Linked DNA regions of Homo sapiens: region 1 is linked to region 2. The links come from fine-mapping of genetic effects on gene expression. A gene starts in region 2. The other region holds a variant in brackets. All regions are shown on one strand. Distances are from middle to middle.

What was found.
Region 1: its variant is fine-mapped to the expression of RIT1 in blood mononuclear cells (TOPMed, PIP above 0.99).

What each region holds. Positions count from the first base shown.
Region 1 is chr1:155,943,886-155,957,861 of GRCh38, forward strand. ARHGEF2 (Rho/Rac guanine nucleotide exchange factor 2) reads right to left here. Exons shown (of 22, transcript NM_001162383.2): 13 at 13,828-13,976; 14 at 11,017-11,084; 15 at 8,743-8,943; 16 at 8,231-8,350; 17 at 8,034-8,101; 18 at 7,856-7,891; 19 at 7,598-7,648; 20 at 6,944-7,387; 21 at 6,414-6,597; 22 at 2,969-4,130. The coding sequence ends at 4,057. It overlaps MIR6738 (microRNA 6738), which reads right to left and starts at 7,451; the gene lies at 7,388-7,451. The variant G/T (reference allele first, on the strand shown) is at 10,095.
Region 2 is chr1:155,905,432-155,914,592 of GRCh38, forward strand. RIT1 (Ras like without CAAX 1) reads right to left here and starts at 5,918. Exons shown (of 6, transcript NM_006912.6): 1 at 5,812-5,918; 2 at 5,225-5,373; 3 at 5,019-5,075. The coding sequence starts at 5,330. KHDC4 (KH domain containing 4, pre-mRNA splicing factor) reads right to left here. Exons shown (of 14, transcript NM_014949.4): 14 at 7,614-8,889. The coding sequence ends at 8,690.

The sequences.
Region 1 (13,976 bases), 41 kb after region 2:
GCTCACTGCAACCTCCGCTTCCCGGGTTCAAGCGATTCTCCTGCCTCAGCCTCCCGAGTAGCTGGGACTACAGGCTCCCGCTACCATGCCTGGCCAATTTTTTGTAATTTTTAATAGAGACAGAGTTTCACCATATTGGCCAGGCTGGTCTCAAACTCCTGACCTCTAGTGATCTGCCCACCTCGGCCTCCCAAAGTGCTGGAGTTACAGGCGTGAGCCACCGCACCCGGTCGAGCTATTATTCTTACACCCTGTGTAAAATGGAGACAGAGAGATGGGAGGAAATAAGCGTGCAGCTGGGAGATGGGGATGGGGAACCATGTCTCAGCTGGAATGGTTGTATATGCTCTGAAGTGGGGTATAATGAAAGTCTCACATAAAGAACTCAGAGGTTGGCCCCTAAGCCCCTCTTGAAGGTGTGTTCTCCAGGACAGGGGTTCCTCTTTGGTTCCTGTATTGAGATGCATCAATGATAAAGGTTAGCCATCAGAAGGATTTTCTAGGAGGCAGCCCCTAGAAAGGAGGGAGGCAGAGGGAAGATGAGGTAGAGCTCCCACTTCCACTGCCCCCCCACCGCCCCCCGCCCCAAGCTCTCTGGCATGACTTGTAACCTATGAGGACGCAGGCTGCTCAGGCTCCTGGGGCAGCAGCTGGGAGCAGTGCCGCCTTATTAAGTGCAGAGCGCCCTGTGAAGGGGGAGGCCACAGTGCCTCCAGGTGCCCCCTGTCCCAGTTCCTTTAATTGCTGGGCAGAGGAGGCTCCAAAGAGGCACCCAATTCACAACAGATTAAGCAATGTGAAAGGAACTTAATTAGCCTCTTGTTTAATTTCCTCTTTTTGATGATGTTTAAACTAGTTCCAAAACTCCACGTCTATTCCTAGCCCATGCAGGCAATGGAAAATCCCTCACCACCTAAGCACCCATCTTCCCACCCCAGCAGCTCCCTCTGATGGCTTTGCTGGGCTCCGGATATTGGCTCCTCTGGGGGCATCTCTGCTTTATGGGCCCCAGAGGTAAATATTGACAAAGTGTACACAGGTCCAAGTTAGAGATGAACTGCATGCACAAAGACCTACTCTTGTGGGGGAGTGGAACGAGGAGGGTGCAGTGGAGGATGGAGAAGGGAGGGCTGGGCAGAGCAGGCGGCCTGGAGCTCCCCTTGGAACGGAGGGAAGGCAATGTTTTGGTGAGAACCTGGGCCCTGGCTCCCTGGAACACCAAGCCAAATGGCTTTGAAACTTCAGCAGGAGGGACAGAGGTTAAGACTGTGGGTTCCCAAAAGTGGGTTAGGGAGGGGACAGGGGACACAACGGTGAAAGATGTGAGGAAGAGGCCTAGCTCTCAGGAGTAGACACATCAGACAAATGCTTGTGCCCCATGTTCTGGGGCTGAAGGTGTGTGTGTGTGTGTGTGTGTGTGTGTGTGTGTGTGTGTGTGGAGGGGGTTGGTACGGGGTGGCAGAAGGGACAGCACTGCTTCAAAGAAAGCAGCGGGGGACTTCACACCCACTCTGGGCTGTGTCTCCAGGTTTCCATGTTCTCTGCTGACCAGCATCTCTCATTGGATCTGTGGGGCATTCTGGGAGAGCCTGCATTCCCCTTTCTTGGTGGTCTCTGCATGCTGTCTAATATCCTCACCCTACCCCCACCTACCTTCCTTCCCCACCTAAAGGTGCCACCCTCACAGCTCTGGGTCGGAGATACTTCCAGCTGACCTGGAAGACAGCTGCTGAGCCCTGTGTCCCTGTGTGTGAAATGTGAAGCCCTGGTGTTTTTTTTTTTTTCTTTTCTCCAGGCAGGGTCTTGCTCTGTCACCCAGGCTGGAGTGCTGGAGTGCAGTGGCACAATCTCGGCTCACTGCAACCTCTGCCTCCCGGGTTCAAGCAATTCTCCCACCTCAGCCTCCCAGGTAGCTGGGAATACAGGTGCCCGCCATCACGCCCGGCTAATTTTTGTATTTTTAGTAGAGATGGGGTTTCACCATGTTGGCCAGGCTGGTCTCGAACTCCTGGCCTCAAGTGATCCACCCAACTCAGCTTCCCAAAGTGCTGGGATTATAGGCGTGAGCCACTGCACCCAGCCAGCCCTGGTATTTTTAGGCAGAGTAGCCAAGAGAGAAAAGTGGTGGACTGGAACTAAGAAGGCCGGCCCCCTCCTGGCCTGGCAAGCTTCGTGCACCTAGGTTTCCCGGCCCATAAAATGAGAACAATTCCCCATTCTCAGGATCCCCGTAATGGCTGAGAAAGCACCTTGTAAAGGCTTGATGCTGGTGGATGAGAGTTACAGAAGGGGAGGGTGCTGGCTGCTCCCCCAGCCTGCTCCCCATGTGACTTCAATTCCTCTTTCTAGCTGAGGGCCTGAGCCCCCTTCTCCTGATCTGACCCCACAGGCTCCAACAGGGATGTGAATTCATACCAGCATTTATACAACCCTAGACTCTCACCTCCTCCCCTCCCCCACAGCCCCAAAGTAAGTACCAACTGGGAACAGGAAGTAAAACCAACTAAAACCAAGAACTGAAACCAGCTCATCTCTCACTGCCTCTCAAAGAGGGACAGTAAATGAGCAGCTCCTGTGACGGGTAACCCCAGGGCCCGACATCATGGAGATCAACAAGGGCCTAGTGGGGGATGGATCTGACAATGAATGACACTGGGGATGGGGGCAATAGGTGGAGGTGATTGCTGAGCATGGCATACAAATACGATGAACACACTTTTCCTGATACCGGAATTCCCAACATTGGAACCTGTGTGCCCCTTTGTTTTTATCCTTGTATTTGTGAATTAAAAAAACAAAAAAAAGATTTGCAGTGGTTACTTTTGTTAGTGCCCCCTCTCTTCAGTGAGGCAGAGGCTGTCCTTGCGGTGAGAGGAAAAGGCCCCTTTCAGAGGAACTTAGGTCACTGCCCGGCTCTCTACTACCATCCTCCTCAGAATTGGCAGACATTATGGAAGACAGTACCTTATGGAGTTCCAGGTTTTTAATTTTCCCTGAATTTTTTTTTTAAACAACAAAATTGGCAAGAAGAAAATTCTTCGACATTTGGGGGCTGGTCGACATTTGGGGGCAAGGGTTCCACTGAAAAATCCCCCAAATTCACGCTGAGGTTTCAGGTCATGGTTGCTGAGGTGGAAGATGAGGTCAGGGCTCTTGGAGATTTTCCAACCCACCCTAGAACTTGTTTCTAAATGGCTGGGGAAGAGGTCAGTATAGGTCCCCCCGTTACTGCAGATGAAGGCAGAAGTCATTCTCTCCCCCACCCCTCAACTTCTTCAGAGATGTGGAGATAGGAGGCTTCGATCTCTAATTGCCTACGATCTCTTAAAAATATAAAACACGTGCAGTTGACTTTGGTACAAAAAAGAAAACAAAAGAACAACAAAACATTCTGGTCCCTGTGGGTTTTTTCCCTCACCCCCAACAAACCATTATGGCCACCCCAACCTTTATTCCATCAACTCCAGGAAGCCAGGTTATCTCCCAGGGCTTCCATGAAGGACGGAGAAAGGGAGAACAGCAGTAAGAGGTTGAGGGGAGAGGAGAAAGGGACATGGCCCTGCCCACAGCCCTCCTTTATTTAAAGGGCAGTAGGGTGCTGTGGCTGCAGCCTCTCCTCCAAGACGGATGTTGCAGGGGAGGGCCGTTAGGGCAAGAACCCAGCAGCTGCGTGGATGAGCCTGAATATACCCCAGTAGTGTTCAAGGACAAGGCCCTCTGATCCCTATGGCTTGGTTCCCATGTCCCTGGTCCTTTAAATCTCCCCTCTCCCCCCATAACTAATAAACAATAAATAAATAAATTTTCCTAAAGTTGCGGGAAGAAGGCATGAACCACTGGCATCTGTGGTGTAGCTTTCGGATGTCCCAGGGGGTGTTGTGGCCTAATTCCCCTAGCTTCTTAAATGGCCCCAGGTATCCAAGGATCCCAAGAGCTGGCAAGGACAATTTGCAGTTCTTTCAAATGTTCCCTCATCATTGGCAAATTGGAGTCCCCAAGGTTAGCCCCCTCAGTAATGTTCTTCAGTGGGGCACGGGGCAGGGGGGAGGGGCCCCCTTAGCTCTCGGAGGCTACAGCCTCCCCGTCGCGGCTCTCCGTCTCCTCCGGGATGTCCTGCATTCTGGTAAAGTCTGAAGGGGGACAGGACAAAGCCAGTGAGTTAGCAGAGACTCCCATGAGGAACTGTACCCCTAGACTAATGCCTCCCCATCTGCAGGCTCAGGGGGCTCTGGGGCTGTGAAGGGATGACAGGGTTCTGTAAATTCTTGGGTGAGAGGAAAACCTTTGGCAACAAAGTAAGCAAGGTATCCATACCTAGGTACCGGATACACTTTTACAGTATCCAAAGATACAATTTGATTAGGAAAATACAAAATACTTTAAGGTTAAAGCTTTTGGTAATTTTTTATTTCATGAACCAACTGTAAAAACTTGAAGTTCTTTGAAACTTTTTTTACTTTAAAAACTGGCCCCATGGCTCGTGCTTATAATCCTAACACTTTGGGAGGCTAAGGTGGGAGAATCACTTAAGGCCAGGAGTTGGAGACCAGCCTGGCCAACATGGTGAAACCCCATCTCTACTAAAAATGCCAAAAATTAGCTATATGTGGTGGCATGCGCCTGTAATCCCAGCTACTCGGGAGGCTGAGGAACAAGAATTGCTTGAACTTGGGAGGTGGAAGTTGCAGTGAGCTGAGATTGTGCCACTACACTCCAGCCTGGGTGACAGAGCAAAACTGTCTCAAAAAAAACAAAACAAAACAAAACAAAAAACTATACCTTCCCAGGCACAGTGGTATGTACCTGTAGCCCCAGCTACTTGGGAGGATCACTTAAGCCCAGGAGTTTGAGTCCAGCCTCGGCAACAGCACAAGACCCTCTCTCTAACATAAAAAATTTTAGAGTGAGATCCTCTGTCTGGGTCTCCGGGTCTCTTTCTGTCGCCCAGGCTGGAGCAATCACGGAGTACTGTCAACTCAACCTGCTGGGCTCAAGTGATCCTCTCACCTCACTCTCACTCTCCGTAGCTAGGACTACAGGCTCACTCCACCACACCTGGCTAATTAAAAAAATTTTGGGGGACCAGGCACGGTGGCTCACACCTGTAATCCCAGCACTTTGGGAGGCCAATGTGGGTGAATCACCTGAGGCCAGGAGTTCGAGACCAGCCTGGCCAACATGGTGAAACCCCATCTCTACTAAAAAATACAAAAAAAATTAGCCAGGTGTGGTAGTGCATGCCTGTAAATCCCAGCTACTCGAGAGGCTGAGGCAGGAGAATCACTTGAACTCAGGAGGTGGAGGTTGCAGTGAGCTGAGATTGTGCCACTGCACTCCAGCCTGGGTGACAGAGTGAGACTCCATCTTAAATAAATAAATAAATAAAATAAAATAAAATAAAATAAAATAAAATAGACCGGGTGCAGTGGCTCACATCTGTAATCCCAGCACTTTGGGAGGCCAAGGCAGGCGGATCATGAGGTCAAGAGATTGAGACCAGACTGGGCAACATGGTGAAACCCTATCTCTTCTAAAAATACAAAAATTAGCTGGGCGTGGAGGCATGTGCCTGTAGTCCCAGCTACTCGGGAGTCTGAGGCAGGAGAATCACTTGGACCTGGGAGGCGGAGGTTGCAGTAAGCGGAGATCTCACTACTGTACTCCAGCCTGGCGACAGAGTGAGAATTCCATCTCAAAAAAAAAAAAAATTTAGCCAGGCGTGGTGGCTCATGCCTGTAATCCCGACACTCTGGGAGGCCAAGACAGGTGGATCGCGAGGTCAGCCGTTCAAGACCAACCTGGCCAACATAGTGAAACCCCATTTCTACTAAAAATACAAAAATTAGCTGGGCGTGGCGGTGGGCGCCTGTAATCCTAGCTACTTGGGAGGCTGAGGCAGGAGAATCGCTTGAACCTGGAAGGCAGAGGTTGCAGTGAGCCAAGATCACGCCACTGCACTCCAGCCCAGGCAACAGTGCAAGACTCCATCTCAAAAAATAATAATGAAATAAATTAATTAAATAAAATAAAAAAATAAATAAATGAATTTTTTTTTGTAGAGAAGGTGGGTCTCACTATGTTGCCCAGGCTGGCCTCAAAATTCTGAGCTCAAGCGATCCTCCTGCCTTGGCCTCCCAAAGTGTTAGGATTACAGGCCTGAGCCGCCATGCCTTTTTAAAAAAGAATCTGTTTTTACTTCTAAAGGTTGGGAATCACCAACCAGTTGGAGGAGAGAGGCCCCTCCTGCTTCCTAGACTTCCACCACCCATTCATCATCAGACAAAACAGGAAGTCCCTCCCTAGAGTTACTACAAGCCTCACAGGTCAGTTAGGGCCCATTTGGAAGCCACAGCCCAATGGCCTGTACCCAGGCTGCACTCTACCTCTGGTCCATGTCTCCGCCAGGGTCTCACCTCGTGGACTGTGGGGCGGAGACAGACGGCTGCTACCTTCCTCCTCGCTGCCAGTGTCAGGGTCACTGCTGTCTTGCAGCCGCTCTTCGGGGCTCCCCAGTTCCTGCCTCTCTCGGTCCTCAAAGTTTCGATGGACAGAGCGAGTAGTGACAGGTAGATCCAGGCGGTCAGTGCCTCGGCTGGGCTGTGGACAGTGGGCAGGAAGAACAGCAGGTCAGGGACTGAGTAGTGTGAAGATTGGAGGTTCTGCTTGGCTGAAGGCAGCAGCTCTCCCCCCTGGGGCTCACCCATGAGTCCCCTTCAGGAGATCCACCACCAACTGGCCTCTTTCAGCACCACGACCCGAGTTAATTTCCTCCACCCCTGCACCCATCTACATTTCTTTTCAGTTCTCCAACCAGTATCTCAATATCCTTCAAGTCAGTTGACTGATTGCATTTGGGCTCAAATCCCCAATGGCCCAATTTCTTTCGGGCTCCATGGACCCTTATGTCCACCCCAGGTCCATTCACCACTGCAGGCCACCTTACCTGTGGGGGGTTGAAACTCAAGTACAGGGCATCGCCTGCGGGGAGGCTGCGCCGCCGAGGATCCACAGGTCTGCGGGCCCAGGGGGCCTCAGCTGGGAGTGGCTCGGTCTGGCCCAGGGCGGCCAGCTGCCTTCGAGCCTCTTCGGCCTCACGCTCCAGCAGTGCCCGGGCCTGCTCACTCTCCCGGAGCCGGGCCTCCAGGCTGCCAGCTTCGGTTGCCCGTTCTTCACCTAGCCGCCGGCAGCGCCGTAGCTCCTCCTGCAGCAGCGCATGTTGCCGCTGCAGTAATGCCAGTTCCGTGGCCTGCTTTTCAGGGGCCACAGGGGCAGCCCCAGCCCTGCCAGCCTCCCCATCCCGAGAGTTGGCTCGGCACAGCTTCTCCCGCCGCTCAGGGCCCTCAGGGAACCGGGCTTCCATCAGAGTGTCCTGCTGGGCCACAGCTGCCTGGGAGTAGAATGCAGGCAGAAGGGTTTATCAGAACCCCTGTGCTCTTCTACCCCTCGCCTTCACCCTCCAAGGCCCAGATCATCGCTCCTGGAGAGCTTGGATTGGGAGGGTATTTAGAAAGGCCTGTTGGGATGACCATGCCCCACCTAAACAGGCATCTCTAGCCTGGCTCCTCCCCTTCCCCATTCAAGCCCTTGTCCTACTGACCTGTAGGCCATGTAGAAGTCCATAGAGATTGACCAATCGCTGTAACGCCTCCTGAGGACAGACAGGGTGGGAACAGGGCCCCAGCTTTAGGATGGGAGAACTGCCCAAAAGTTGAACAAGGGTGGGTGTGGGGACAGTAGGATCCGGAGACATACTTGAATGTAGACGCTTTCCCCACCCCACTCCAAACTGGGCTCTAACTACTCAGACTAAGAACATCCTCCCTTCAGTCTCCTATACCATCAATTCCCATCTCACCTCTTGCGGTGATCTCAGCTGATTTCCATTTCGATCCTGCAGAAATGGGCAAGAATGGGGAGTCAGCAGGCACACAAATCCTGGGTGCCTGCCCCTGACAGCTTTGTGTTGAGGATCCAGAGGCTGGCTGTCCCTCTCCCACCCTCTTGCCAAGTCCCAGAACCTCTTGAGGACCTACCCTCTGGCTAGAGTCTGAGTCAGCTCTGCAGAGTTCAATGGAGCCATTGAAGGTTCTGGCCTCACCATCTGTTGAGAAGGAGAAAAGGATGGCTGAGCTCACTTCCCTGGGGCCCTGATACCACTTGATCCCTGGTACCACTCTACTAACTTTGGCCCCTCCCACCTACTACCTTGGTCCCCTGCCCTGGTACTCACTGGCAGTGACCCCAGGACTCGTGTTACCACCGCTGTCTGGTTCCAAGGGCAGGGCTGGCTCTCGGGGTGTCAAGAGCAGTTCCACTCCTGGCCCCACCAGCAGGTCTTTCAGACCCTCCACTGTGGGGAAAGAGGAAGAGGTGAGAACAGGAATGACACAGGACCCTGAGGGGAATGCCATTCACCCCCACATGTGGGACACTTGGGCATCTGGGGGAATGCCCCCTGCACTGGCAGTGGGGTTTCACTCACACAACCACTGATGAGGTAAAGGGCAGTAAATGCCTACGAGGCAGCAGAGTCCATGCAGCATGGACGATATGGAGCAGCAGCAAGGACCACACCTCCTCCCCTGCCTTTCCCAGGAACTGGCCCAGAAGAGGCACTCAGGGCCGTTTATGGTTTATAGGGTTGGCATCCCACTTGTCTGTGTTTGTCCATGTCTAGTCACATGTCCACATTCTGTGACGGTGAGTGCTTGAGCCTGGACTCTTCCCTGGGAGCTCCCTCACCCTCACGGATGGCATCCTGCAGCAGCCGCTCGCCACGAGGGGACTCAAGGGACTCAGAGCGGAAAAGGCCCCTGGGCAGGGTGGGCAGGGCCATCCCACTGCCACCATCCTCTTCGGCCTGGAAATGGGTCATCTCAGCAAACAGCCCGACCTTCTCTCGCAGCAGCTCCACCAGTGCCCGGTCCTTCTGCTGCAACTCCACTGCAGATAAGGAACAAGTGAGGACATGAGAGGACGTAGGGGTATGCAAGAGCGCCAGTAGAGGACAGCCCTAGGGGAGAGGGGTAGGGTGGGGCAGTGTGGCAGACTTAATTTTGTTATTTTGGCATTTATAAAAAAGAAAAAGCTTTCTGTTGGTCAGGTGTAGTGGCTCACACCTGTAATCCCAGCACTTTGGGAGGCCAAGGCAGGTGGATCGCTTGAGGCCAGGAGTTCAAGACCAGCCTGGCTAACATGGCAAAACCCTGTCTCTACTTAAAATACAAAAATTAGCCAGGTGTGGTGGCACGCGCCTGTAGTCCCAGCTACTCAGGAGGCTGAGGCACAAGAATCGCTTGAACCCAGGAGGCAGAGGTTGCAGTGAGGCCGAGATCACACCACTGCACTCCAGCCTGGGCGACACAGCAAGACTCTGTCTCAAAAAAAAAAAAAAAAGATTTGTGGAAGGGGTTGCAGGTTGTCCAACAGTGTTCATTCTTTCCATCTTCCTTTAATGAGAAAATGCATAGAAGTTTCATCTGGGCACACATGGCTGCCCAGTTAACAACTATGTTTTCCAGCCTGACTTGCACGTGACTATATTGCTACATGACTACATTCTGGCCAATGGATATGAGCATCTTCCAGATCTGCTCTTAAAAGAAATGGGTATAGGCTGGGCATGGCAGGTGGATCACTTGAGGCCAGGAGTTCGAGACCAGCCTGGCCAACATGGTGAAACCCTATCTCTACTAAAAATACAAAAATTAGCCAGGAGTGGTGGTGGATGCCTGTAATCCCAGCTCCTTGGGAGGCTGAGGCAGGAGAATCACTTGAACGTGGGAGATGGAGGTTGCAGTGAGTCGAGATCACGCCACGCCACTGCACTCCACCCTGGGCGACAGAGCAAGACCCTGTCTCAAAAAAAAAAAAAAAAAAAAGAAAGAAAGAAAAAGAAAAAAGGGTATAAACTCTATTCCTTTACTCCTCCTTGCTAGGTGTGATACAGGTGTGACAGTGGGAGCTGGAGTAGCCACTTCAGACATGACATAGAGATGAAAACTTCATGTTAAAGATGGCAGAGCTGCACCACTACTCTGCACTTCCCACTTTGAACTGTTATGTTGACAGCAATAATATTCTACCTTGTTGGG[G/T]TTTTTTTTGTTGTTGTTGTTACCCAGACTGGAGTGCAGTGGTGCAATTATAGTGTATTACAGCCTTGAACTCCTGGGCTCAAACAATCCGCCCACCTCAGCCTCCCGAGTAGCCAGGACTACAGGTGTGTACCATCATGCCTAGCTATTTTTTTTTTTTTAATTTTTTGTAGAGACAGGGTCTTGCTATGTATGTTTTGTTGCCCAGACTGGTCTCGAACTCCTGACCTCAAGAGATCCTCCTGTCTCCCAAATCCTTCTGGGATTAAAGGCGTGAGCCACTGCATCCAGCCAATCTACTTCTTTTTTTTTTTTTTTTTTTGAGATGGAGTCTCCCTCTGTTGCCCAGGCTGGAGTGCAGTGGCGTGATCTCAGCTCACTGCAAGCTCCGCCTCCCAGGTTCATGCCATTCTCCTACCTCACTCTCCTGAGTAGCTGGGACTACAGGCACCCGCCACCACCCCCGACTAATTTTTTTTTTGTATTTTTTAGTAGAGACGGGGTTTCACCGTGTTAGCCAGGATGGTCTCAATCTCCTGACCTCGTGATCCGCCCACCTCGGCCTCCCAAAGTGCTGGGATTACAGGCGTGAGCCACCGCGCCCGGCCAATCTACTTCCTTTTTTAAGGAAGAAGATTTTTGTGGTCTTTTAGTATAGCAGTTAAATCATACCCTAACTAATATAAGGCCTTACAGTGAAAAAGTAAGTTACTCACCCAACCTTGGTCTTCCATATTATTTTTACACACATGGTAGTATACACTTTACATTGTTTTAAACCTTGCTTTTTTCACTTAATATGTTTCAGTTGTGGATCTACACCAGCCCTCATAGAGCCATCTCATCTTTTTAACAGTTGCATAATATTCCATTGTGTGAATGTATTATAAATTACTAAGGAGCTCCTTGTGGGTGGACTTACTCTTAATTCGCCGCAGGTAAGCCTCATCCTCTGTCTCAATCAGGGGGAAGTCCTCCCTGGATGGGCATCTGGAGGGGTAACAGGTCGCATGCCATTGAGAGACAGAAGCTAGGTTATAGACCAGAATCAGCCTTCCCTCCTTCCCAAACATGCCTTATGCTTCCATCTTCTGATAAGACTCCTCAGCCTCACACCCTAGCTTTAATTTAGTCCTGACCTTCTCCCTTTTCTTTCTTTTTTTTTTGAGACGGAGTCTTACTCTGTCACCCAGGCTGGAGTGCAAGGGCGCTATCTCAGCTCACTACAACCTCCTCCTGGGTTCAAGTGATTCACTTGTCTCAGCCTCCTGAGTAGCTAGGATTACAGGCACGCACCACCATGCCTGGCTAATTTTTGTATTTTTAGTAGACATGGGGTTTCGTCACGTTGGCCAGGCTGGTCTCAAACTCCTGACCTCAGGTGATCCTCCGCCTCCCAAAGTGCTGGGATTACAGGCATGAGCCACCGCGCCCGGCCGACCTTCTCCCATTTCTTAGCACTGATTATCTGCGTTTACTGAGATATATCTCTCCAAAGGTCGCTTGGAAAGGCAGCACAGTGCAGAGGGTCAAGTACAGGCTTTGGCATCAAGCAAACAGGATGCAAATCCTGGCTCCACTGTTTACCAGGTGGTAACCTCTCTATTTCCTCATTTGAAAAATGAAGGTAATATCTTCCTCATAGGTTTTTCATTAGGATTAAATGAAATGTTAAAGTGCTTTGAACATAACAGAAGCTCAACAAATCAATTACAATTAATATTATTAATTTCCACAATTATAATTTTTTTTTTGAGAGAGAGTCTTGCACTTTCGCCCAGGCTGGAGTCCAGTGACAGGATCTTGGCTCACTGCAACCTCTGCCTCCCAGGTTCAGGTGATTCTCCTGCCTCAGTCTCCCAAGCAGCTGGGACTACAGGCACGCACCACCATGCCTGGCTAAGTTTTATATTTTTAGTAGAGACAGGGTTTCGCCATGTTGGCCAGGCTGGTCTCGAACTCCAGTGGTCCGCCTGTCTCAGCCTCCCAAAGTGCTGGGATTCCAGGTGTGAGCCACAGCGCCTGGCCACAATTATAAATATTAATACTATTAATAAAGAAGCCACTACAGATCTGTCAACAGGACAGGTTATTTTGAACTGCTTTCTTGGAATAGGCAATTTCATAATTTTTTTTTGGAGATGGAGTCTCACTCTGTCACCTAGGCTGGAGTGCAGTGGCACAATCCTGACTCACTGCAACCTCCACCCCCGGGTTCAAGCGATTCTCCTGCCTCAGCTTCCCGCGTAACTGGGATTACAAGCTTATGCCACCACGCCCGGCTAATTTTTGTATTTTTAGTAGAGACGAGGTTTCACCATATTGGCCGGGCTGGTCTTGAACTCCTGACCTCAAGTGATCTACCCGCCTCAGCCTCTCAAAGTGCCGGGATTACAGGCGTGAGCCACTGTGCCTGGCCTGCAATTTCATACTTTTATATGCATTTCTAAAAACCTTTTCAAAATTCCATGGTGCAGAAGTTAAAAAAAAAAAAAGGTTTACAAATTATAAAGTTGAGAACTGATTCCCTGAAAGCTAAAGAAAAATTATAAAAATCTTGGCTGGGCATGGTGGCTAATGCCTGTAATCTCAGCTCTTTTGGAGGCTGAGGTGGGCGGATAAATCTGAGATCAGGAGTTCGAGACCAGCTTGGTCAACATGGCAAAACCCCGTCTCCACTAAAAATACAAAAATTTGGCTGGGTGCAGTGGCTCATGCCTGTAATCCCAGGACTTTGGGAGGCTGAGGCGGGTCGATTACGAGGTCAAGATATCAAGACCATCCTGGCCAACATGGTAAAACCCCGTCTCTACTAAAAATACAAAAATTAGCTGGGCATGGTGGCGTGAGCCTGTAGTCCCAGCTACTCAGGAGGCTGAGGCAGCCCGGCAACAGAGACTCTGTCTCCAAAAAAAAAAAAAAAAAAAAAAAATTTGCCTGGGGTCGTGGTGGGCACCTGTAGTCCCAGCTATTTGGGAGGCTGAGGCAGGAGAATCGCTTGAATCCAGGAGGTGGAGGTTGCAGTGAGCTGAGAGCGAGACTCTGTCTCAAAAAAAATTAAAAAAAAAAAAGAAAGAAAACCTGTAAAAATCTGAATTAGAATTACACTTACACTTCATTCTTTAGGCATAATCTTCCAGAATCCATTTTAAACATCTTACCTGTGCTTTATTTGATGTTTTTTCCCATCACAATTAGACACATAGTTGACTGCCTCAAATCTAATGTGTGTCCAATAGAAGCTAAAGATTTGCTGCTTTGACACACTGATTTCCTTCTTGCTTCTATTGTGTTGAGTCTGTTTATGAGACTTGTTCCTCTCTAGTATCGATGCTTTCATTATCCTCTTTTTCATTCATTTTTAGAAAAATAAATGTAAAATACAATACAATCCAAATAACAGCCCTCTGCCTACAGATGAACATGTGAATGCAGCTGAAATTGTACTGTTGGCTGGCAGGTATGCCACCATGTGACAGCTCAAAGTATTCCCTTGCTTGTCAGCTCATGCTGAATTTGAAAGGGAGTTGAGGTTGGCAATGTATAAAATGTGGCTTTACAGGACATAAGAACATAGGTGACCTTTCCAGTCTTGGGCCATTTTGTCTCTCCCTCAACCTCTTCCCCCACCTCTGAATGCTGGATTCTGTTCCCAGGGAGTTCTATGGTTGGGATCTAATGCTGCAGGTACCCTGAGGTCATAAGCACATGCAGGCGGCAGGCAGACACTCACGTGCGCACGCTCTGCTGAATGACCCGGATCCAGGTGCTCCGGTCATCCCGGGATGCTGTGTGCACCTCGTACATCTCAGGTGGGGCTGCGCTGATCAGAAACATCCCTTTCTCCTGGTTGGCAATGTCTCGTACGATTAGATTCTGCAG
Region 2 (9,161 bases):
TGAAACAATCCTCCTGCCTTGGCCTCCCAAAGTGCTGGTATTACAGGTGTGGGCCACTGCACTCAGCCGAGACCCCATCTCTTAGGGGAAAAAAAAAATTAGGCCTGAAAAGTAACTTTACCATTTATTAAATTGTTATTATCTACCAGACATTATACTAAGTAACTTATATATATTAATTCTTCAATAATCACAATAATCCAATGAAGTAGGCATTATTACCTCCATTTTACAGCTAAAGAAAATTCAACTTGAAAATATTAATGTCTTCTCTAAATTAGTTAATTAGTGACAGAATGAGGATTAAAATCCAAGATTGCTGAACTGAAAAGCATTATTAACCATGTGTTATACTTCCTCCTCAATACTACAAAAAAGGAAAAAAATATATAATTCACTATTTTTTTTTTTTTTGAGACAGGCTCTCACTCTATCACCCAGACTGGAGTGCAGTGGCATGATCTCGGCTCACCACAACTTCTGCCTCCCAGGCTCAAGGGATTCTCCTGCCTCAGCCTCCTGAGTAGCTGGGATTACAGGCACATGCCACTATTGCCCGGCTAATTTTTGTATTTTTAGTATAGACAGGGTTTCACCATGTTGGCCAGGCTGGTCTTGAACGCCTGACCTCAAATGATCCACCTGCCTCAGCCTCCCAAAGTGTTGGGATTACAGGCGTGAGCCACTGCACCCGGTCTAACTGACTATTTTCTAAATAATCCACAGTTTCGTAATTTCTCTTTTCTGAAAGCAAATTTCTTTATGCATATTACTATAGTAACCTTGGAAAATATAGAAAACTAAAAAGAAAAAAAAAGCCACGCAATATTTCATTCACTTAACAACTGCTGCTTACATCTCAATGTATTTCCTTTTAACATTTTTTCTTGAATTCCTGCTTCTGTCTCTTCCTCAAAGATGAAGAGCTCATTAAATCAATGCTTCTCAATTATTCATTAGGATTAGTGAGTTGTGAAATCTACTTAATGGGCCGGGACCAGCATTAAAATAAACAAGCAGAAACCTAAATAAAAATAGAAAATACCAGGCCAGGCACAGTGGTTCATGCCTGTAATCCCAGCACTTTGGGAGGCTGAGGCGGGTGGATCACCTGAGGTCAGGAGTTCAAGACCAGCCTGGCTAATGTGGTGAAACCCCATCTCTACTAAAAATACAAAAATTATCTGGATGTGGTCACAGGCGCCTGTAATCCCAGCTACTTGGGAGGCTGAGGCAGGAGAATCGCTTGAACTGGGAGGTGGAGGTTGCAGTGAGCCAAGATTGTGCCACTGGACTCTAGCCTGGGCAACAGGAGTGAAATTCTCCGTCTCAAAAAAAAAAAAAAAAAAAAAAGAAAAAAAGAAAAAAAAAGAAAGAAAATACCAGAGTGGGTGAGGTACAGTGGCTCTCACGCCTGTAATCTCAGTGCTTTGGGAGGTCCAGGTGGGAGGATCACTTGCGCTCAGGAGTTTGAGACCAGCCTGGGCAATAGAGCGAGACCTCATCTCTACTAAAAATCCAAAAATATTAGCTGGGCTTAGTGGCCTACGCCTGCAGTCCCAGGTATTTGGTAGGGTGAGGCGGGAGGATCACCTGAACCCAGGAGGTCCAGGCTGCAGTGAGCCAAGATCACAACACTGCACTCCAGCATGGGCAACAGAGTGAGACCCTGTCTCAAAAAAAAAGAAAAGAAAAGAAAATATCAGAGTGCACCAGATGTAGTGAGGTAAAGTTTCATAATATTTTAGCTACACATACACATGCGCTTGTGTATATAATTTATATATACATATGCACACATTCATATGCTTTTTTTTTTTTTTTTTGAGGCAAAGTCTCACTCTGTCGCTCAGGGCGGAGTGCAGTGGTGCAATCTCGGCTCACTGCAACCTCTGCCTTCTGGGTTCAAGGAATTCTCCCACCTCAGCTTCCTGAGTAGCTGGGATTACAGGCATGCAGCAGTAACACGCCCAGCTAATTTTTGTATTTTCAGTAGAGATGGGGTTTTACCATGTTGGCCAGGCTGGTCTTGAACTCCTGACCTCAGGTGCCTTGGCCTCCTAAAGTGCTTCGATTACAGGATTGCAGGCTCAGGATTACAGGCGTAAGCCTCCGCACCCGGCCTTGTATGCTTTTATATCTCTACCAGTTACAATGTAAAGTTTTTCTGAGTTTACAGCCAGAGCTTGAAATCAAATGCACTAAATTAGAAACTCAAGAACAGAAACCTCATCTTTTTGATCACCACTGTACCCTGAGGGTAAGCAGTGCTTGGCACATAATAGAAACTCAGAAGACATAAGTATTTGCTGTTGAATCAGATAATATTGCCAGGAGAGTAGTTAACTGGAGGAAAATTGATTAAAACAGATAACTTGGCCGGATGCGGTGGCTCACGCCTGTAATCCCAGCACTTTGGGAGGCCGAGGCGGACGGATCACAAGGTCAGGAGATCGAGACCATCCTGGCTAACACGGTGAAACCCCGTCTCTACTAAAAATACAAAAAATTAGCCAGGCGAGGTGGCGGGTGCCTGTAGTCCCAGCTACGCTGGAGCCTGAGGCAGGAGAATGGCATGAACCCCGGGGGGGCGGAGCCTGCAGTGAGCCGAGATCATGCCACTGCACTCTAGCCTGGGCGACAGTGAGACTCCATCTAAAAAAAAAAAACAAAAAAAAAAATACAGATAACTCTTACAGGAGACGAGTATTTGAGTTTTACTTTAAAGAAAGGGAAAGACGCGGCCGGGCACGGTGGCTCACGCCTGTAATCCCAGCACTTTGGGAGGCCAAGGCAGACAGATCACGAGGTCAGGAGATCGAGACCATCCTGGCTAACACAGTGAAACCCTGTCTCTACTAAAGGTACAAAAAATTAGCCGGGCGTGGTGATGGGCCCCTGTAGTCCCAGCTACTCAGGAGGCTGAGGCAGGAGAATGGCGTGAACCCGGGAGGCGGAGCTTGCAGTGAGCCAAGACGGCGCCACTGCACTCCAGCCTGGATGACAGAGTCAGACTCTGTCTCAAAAAAAAAGAAAGGAAAAGATGCTTTTGGAGTTCTCAAGTACATATGCGTAAGCCCTAAATTCATTTTATTCCTAGAACTCCCGCCATAATTTGAATCTCTGAACAATTTTTTTTTTTTTTTTTGAGACAAAAGCTTGCTCTTATCCCCCAGGCTGGAGTGTGATGGCACTATCTCGGCTCACTGCAACCTCCGCCTCCCAGGTTCAAGCAATTCTCCTGCCTCAGCCCCCGCAGTAGCTGGGATTACAGGCACCCAGCACCACGCCCGGCTAGTTTTGGTATTTTTAGTAGAGATGGGGTTTCACCATGTTGGCCAGGCTGGTCTCGAACTCCTGACCTCAGGTGCTCCACCCGCCTCGACCTCTCAAAGTGCTGGGATTACAGGCATGAGCCACCGCGCCTGGCCTGAATCTCTGAACAGTGTTCTAAATTTGATATAGTACATGAAAAAGTCAAGACTTTTTCTATTTTTCCCATCCCTGGAATCATGTGCTCTATGAAATGACCATATCAAAGCTGGGCCACCACAAAACATTATTGGCTTTGCGGGAAACAGAGCAGCAGAGGCCTGACCCAATGGAAATCCTTCCTAGAGAACTAGGATCATGGCAAAGAGTGTCACATACTGAAAATAATAAGGCCCGGCGCAGTGGTCACGCCTGTAATCCCAGCACTTTGGGAGTCCGAGGTGGGCAGATCACGAGGTCAGGAGATTGAGACCATCCTGGCTAACACGGTGAAATCCCATCTCTACTAAAAATACAAAAAAAAATTAGCCGGGCTTGGTGGCGGGCGCCTGTAGTCCCAGATACTCGGGAGGCTGAGGCAGGAGAATGGCATGAACCTGGGAGGTGGAGCTTGTAGTGAGCCGAGATTGTGCCACCGCACTCCAGCCCGGGCAACAGGGTGAGACACCGTCTCCAAAAAAAAAAACAAAAAAAGAAAATAACAGTACAGCTGACTTTCTGTGCCCTCTCCCATTCCCACATCCATTTTTCTTTCATATTAGGATATAAACCCTTAGAATCAAACCTGCTTCCTTATGGTTTAGGAATGACAGTAATGTTCTTAGTCTTTGTAGAGATTAGCAATTAAAAAATAAAAAAGTCAAAGCAAACAAAATGACTTTTTTACTCTATTAGCGTTCTGCAACAAGAGTTAAGGACCATAAAAGACATCGGAGGGCTAGGCACAGTGGCTCACGCCTGTAATCCCAGTACTTTTCGAGGCTGAGGTGGATGGATTACTTGAGGTCAGGAGTTTGAGACCAGCCTGGCCAACATAGTGAAATCCCATCTCTACTAAAAATACAAAAATTAGCCGGGTGTGGTGGCAGATGCCTGTAATCCCAGCTACTCAGGAGGCTGAGGCAGGAGAATTGCTTGAACCCGGGAGGCGGAGGTTACAGTGACCGGAGATCGCACCATTGCCCTCCAGCCTGGGAGACAGTGCGAGACTCCATCTCAAAAAAAAAAAAAAAACAACAGACAGACATGGGAGAAGACATTACTACGTAATGAACTTAAGGTATAAGGAAGTAAACCAAGAGCTCCAAGTGCAAGATGTCCAGGCTTGGCATGTCTGGGTTGTAAGAGTTCAGCAGCCTGGCTCTACTTGTTTCTCTGCTTCCTTTTGTGGAAGTTCAAACCAGCTGACTCACAGTTACAGAGCGAGTCTCAAGTCATACCCTTAGAGAAGTGACAGCAAGAAAAGGCTTCGTTAAGTGGCCTGTATACAACCATAAAAAAATACAACAAAGAGAGTTGTCCCATTAATGTTCAGTAAGAGACAAAGACTAAAGATGGCTTATGACATAAAGTCTGAAAAAAAAAGAAATATTCAGTTGCTTACCAACTGCTGATACCCTTGTTTCTAAATAAATCTGAATTAGACTCCAAAAAAGCCTCAAAATATAAATAGTTAGAAACTACTGATATTCATTAAGATATTTTTATGGGGTATATTTGGAAACATAAGTGATGATCTGGCTTACCAATGGTGGGATCATGATCTTCTGGGAATCGGTGGCTGATGAACTGCATGGTCATGGCTTCAAAAGAAGAAATAAAAGTCAAATCCTCACAAAGGTGACCCACAGAGAGAATTTTAAGTATTAACATTGCAAGATAGCAAGTATCCCATCTGGTCATTTAAGTACTTTTCATCCATGCTTCCTGTCAAATGGAAAATGTTACCTACCACTCTTCCCTACACCACCAGCACCCAGCATCACTAGTTTGTACTCCCGTGAGAGCCCAGCGGGGCTGCTACAGCAGCTACCAACTGGGCGAGTTCCAGAATCCATTGTCCTCTTGGGGCCTTCCTCGGTTGCCCCGAGGAAAAGCCACCTAGAAAAGGAGGAGGAAATGCTTAATCCAGGATGGAGACACCACGGCGACAGCCCTCAAGCCAGTGCCTTACCTTTCCATACATATTCTGGCCTGTCCCTCTTACTCTGGCCTGTCCCTCTTGCTCACCACTGCACCCTTTCGGGTGGCCCTAAGAAACCCCCCCATCTTCACCCTCCCTCCTAGACAGTTCAGTCACATGACACATCACAGGTTTTACTTTTTCCAAAGAGAAAAATAAAAAGATACAAATAAATTTACGTCTCGGCACAGTAGGGACAAGGAGAAAGTTTTGGGAAGAAAGGGATGCGGCCCCTTAGGCCGCAGGGGTTCTCTCACGTCTGCGGTACCCAGAGGTTCCGCCCCCTCCCCATTCTCCTCCGAACCCCCTCCCCACCCCCAGCTGCTGCTCCGCCGCCAGACTCCCCACCCCTCTACCTCACAAGCCGACGCCCTGCTGCTCCTACTGGTCAGTGGGGACTGGAACACCACAGCCGGTCGGGTCACGCACTTCGTCTTCCTTCACTCGCGGAGGCTCCGGCACTGACCTGTGACCCCTCCCGCAACCGAGTAAGATGGCGCCACCGGCGCCCGAGTCGCGGAAGGAGGGGCGGGGCCACTCAGTGACGCCCACAGCCTGCCCCGCCCTCTTCCCGCCCCTCCCAGGTCCCTAAAACCCAGTTCCGGGACCCACCGCTGAAGGTCCTCTGGTCACCTACCCAACCTAGGGTGTATGCACTCACAGACAAGGGTATTTAATCACGAGTAGAAAGTAAATTATTTACACAAAAGGGAAGGGAGTACGTGATAAGAGACATGCAGGGACACTTAAATTAACAACTTACCGAGGGTTGTTTGCTGCTTGTGGGAAAAAAAAAAACCCAAAACTAATTTGACCCAATGTAATGAGAGGAAGGGAGGACAGGGGCACCCCCCAAATCCTCCTAAAACACAGGATTTCAGTCAAGTCTACCGGGGATGACTACTCATAGGAGAAAAATGACTTTCCTAAAGGAGCGGCCACAATGACTTTTGCTATTGAAACCTAAATTCATTCTCAGAAACCAGATGTTCACAACACTCCCTAATCAGAGTTCTGTATGTATTTTAAACACGTATAAGACACACAAAAACTTGTTTTAAATAAATGTACCACACTCTGGCAGGAAAGAGAGCTCTGAGTTAACAGAGGCCTTGAGTTAAATACAGAACTGAAGCGCAGCCACTATAACCATATTCCCCTCTATTTACGTAGCACAGGTGCTAGAAGAAACTGACACGAAAATTGTTCTCATGCAGCTCTGCCTACCACTGTTCTTTTTAAATGTCTTTCTGGGCCGGGCGGGCGCGGTGGCTCACACCTGTAATCCCAGCACTCTGGGAGGCCGAGGCAGGTGAGTCATGAGGTCAAGAAATAAGAGACCATCCTGGCCAACATGTAAAACCGTCTCTACTAAAAATACAAAAGAATTAGCTGGGTGTGGTGGCATGCGCCTATAAGTCCCAGCTACTCGGGAGGCTGAGGCAGGAGAATCACTTGAACCTGGGAGGTGGAGGTTGCAGTTAGCTGGCTGAGAGGGTGCCACTGCACTCCAGCCTGGCAACAGAGCAAAACTCCGTCTCAAAATTTAAGTCTTTCTGGCCAGGAGTGCTGGCTCACGCCTGTAATCCCAGGACTTTGGGAGGCTGAAGTGGGCTGATCACTTGAGGATCAGGAGTTCAAGACCAGCCTGGCCAAAATGGTGACTCCCTGTCTCTACTAAAAATATAAAAATTAGTTGGGCATGGTGGTAGGTGCCTATAATCCCAGCTACTCAGGAGGCTGAGGCTGGAGAACCACTTGAACCCAGGAGGTTGCGGTGAGCCAGGATTGCACCATTCCACTCCAGCCTGGGTGACAGAGCGAGACTCCATCTCAAAAAAAAATAAAATGTCTTTCCAAGAATAACATATTTCCTTTAAAACCCGCTTCATTCATGAAGTCCTTTTAATACGCTGTTAAATAAAGGAGGGCTAAAATATGAAAATGGAAAATATCCAGCATAATAATCCTTAACCTTTTCATTTGAACTTTAAGGGTACATTTTGCAGTTACATAACTCTGGGAACTATATGCAAACCTTGGGGTCTGTATATGTATTTTTCTGGTAATGTTATAGTTGCATTGTGCTATGAGTAAAAAAGTTTATGAATTTCAGTGTATGGATGGGTTGTGGAAGAAAACAGAGAAACCACAAGCAGAATATTTATAGATTTATTTATAATGAAATTATGGTCTAAATATTTACAACATATAGGAAACCAGAGGATAAGTTTATACAAAGCCAGCCTGCAAAGTATTCAAATGTGCAAAAATGACAGTTCAATATCTCAAACTATTCCTGGTTCAGCAGACTAGCTCCTTCACTTTCACACATCAATATTTGATACAAAAAGTTATTTTGGCAAAATCTGTAATGCCAAGAAAAAGGACAATTTGCAATTTCAGTCATTAAGTCCAAAATCCTATAGCCAGCAGTCAGATCTCTCTGTTTTAGCTGCAACCAGTTCTGGGAGAGAGAGACCACTGTATTTCATTTCTGTGATGAGTTCTGACCAGTTTTAGTCAAGAAGTTTTCTCTGACCCAGCTGAAGACAGGATCTTAGAAGGGCAATAAAAACAGTAATGGCTATGAGACCAATGTGCCTGAAGGTGCCAGCTTTGGATCACCCCAATTAAAAAACACAATGAAAAAATAATTTCATTTTCCTATCCAGGATCCAGCTATATCCAACAGTTTTAAATGAGACAGCATTTTCCAAAACAGAAATAATCCAAAACAAAACAGGGATGCAGATCTGTCAGAATTAAATACTGAAAAGGACGGTCTTAAAATCATTTCCCCACTAATAAATAGTAAGGCTCTGTTTGTAACCAGTTATATATCAAAATTGACCAAACAGTAGTAAAATACAAATAAAACTTTCTTTATGTCAGAACTGGGGCTATTCACCTGGAAAAGGCTGACCAGGTCAAATGTGTATGGGAACGACCCTGTTAGGATGCTTTGTTGGACAAGCACATTTCACCAACTGTTAAAAAGCTTCTGAGATAAATTTGTGATTCTAATTAAATTTTAACAGATTCTATGCCACTGCAGAAATAAGGATTTTTGTGGTTGTTAAGGAACCCCTTTAAGAAAGGGGGGCACTGAATCTCTAACTTCTGCAAAGGTCCAGATGGTTCCCAGCACAGGCCCCAGAGTCTTGTTAAATCAAATGCATGCATTATTGCTAAGAAGAGTCACTGAGGGTCAAAACTCTGTTCCACTGTTTCCTAGGGAGCCATCCAGAATGGCATCTGTTGTTTAGCTCGTGGTTGTGATGAAGGATATTGGTATCCCAAACTCCAGCCCTGTGGAAAACTACTTGCATTTTTATGACCTCCATGTTCCTCCTCTTCATCAGATGAATCTGCAGCATAAGCCACCAAGCCAAATCCCTTCTCTGTAGTTTTCATCTTCTTGGCTGGATAATCTAGAATAGAGAAAAAACAACCCCAACCCCATCCCCGCCAAGGGAAAAAAAAAAATACCATAAATTCGTTAATTAAAAAAAAGATGTTAATTTTAAGTGGTTAGTTGGACACCATTTTGAGGTCACAGGGTCAATGGTCACCCAAAAACGTTGAAGATCACACGAAAAACAGCACCAGCATCAGCAAATGTGAATCCACCAGAACCATGTAAGAAAACAGAGAAAGAAAAAAGAAACACAAAAAAAGAAAAAAAAAGAAAAAAAGGAAAGTT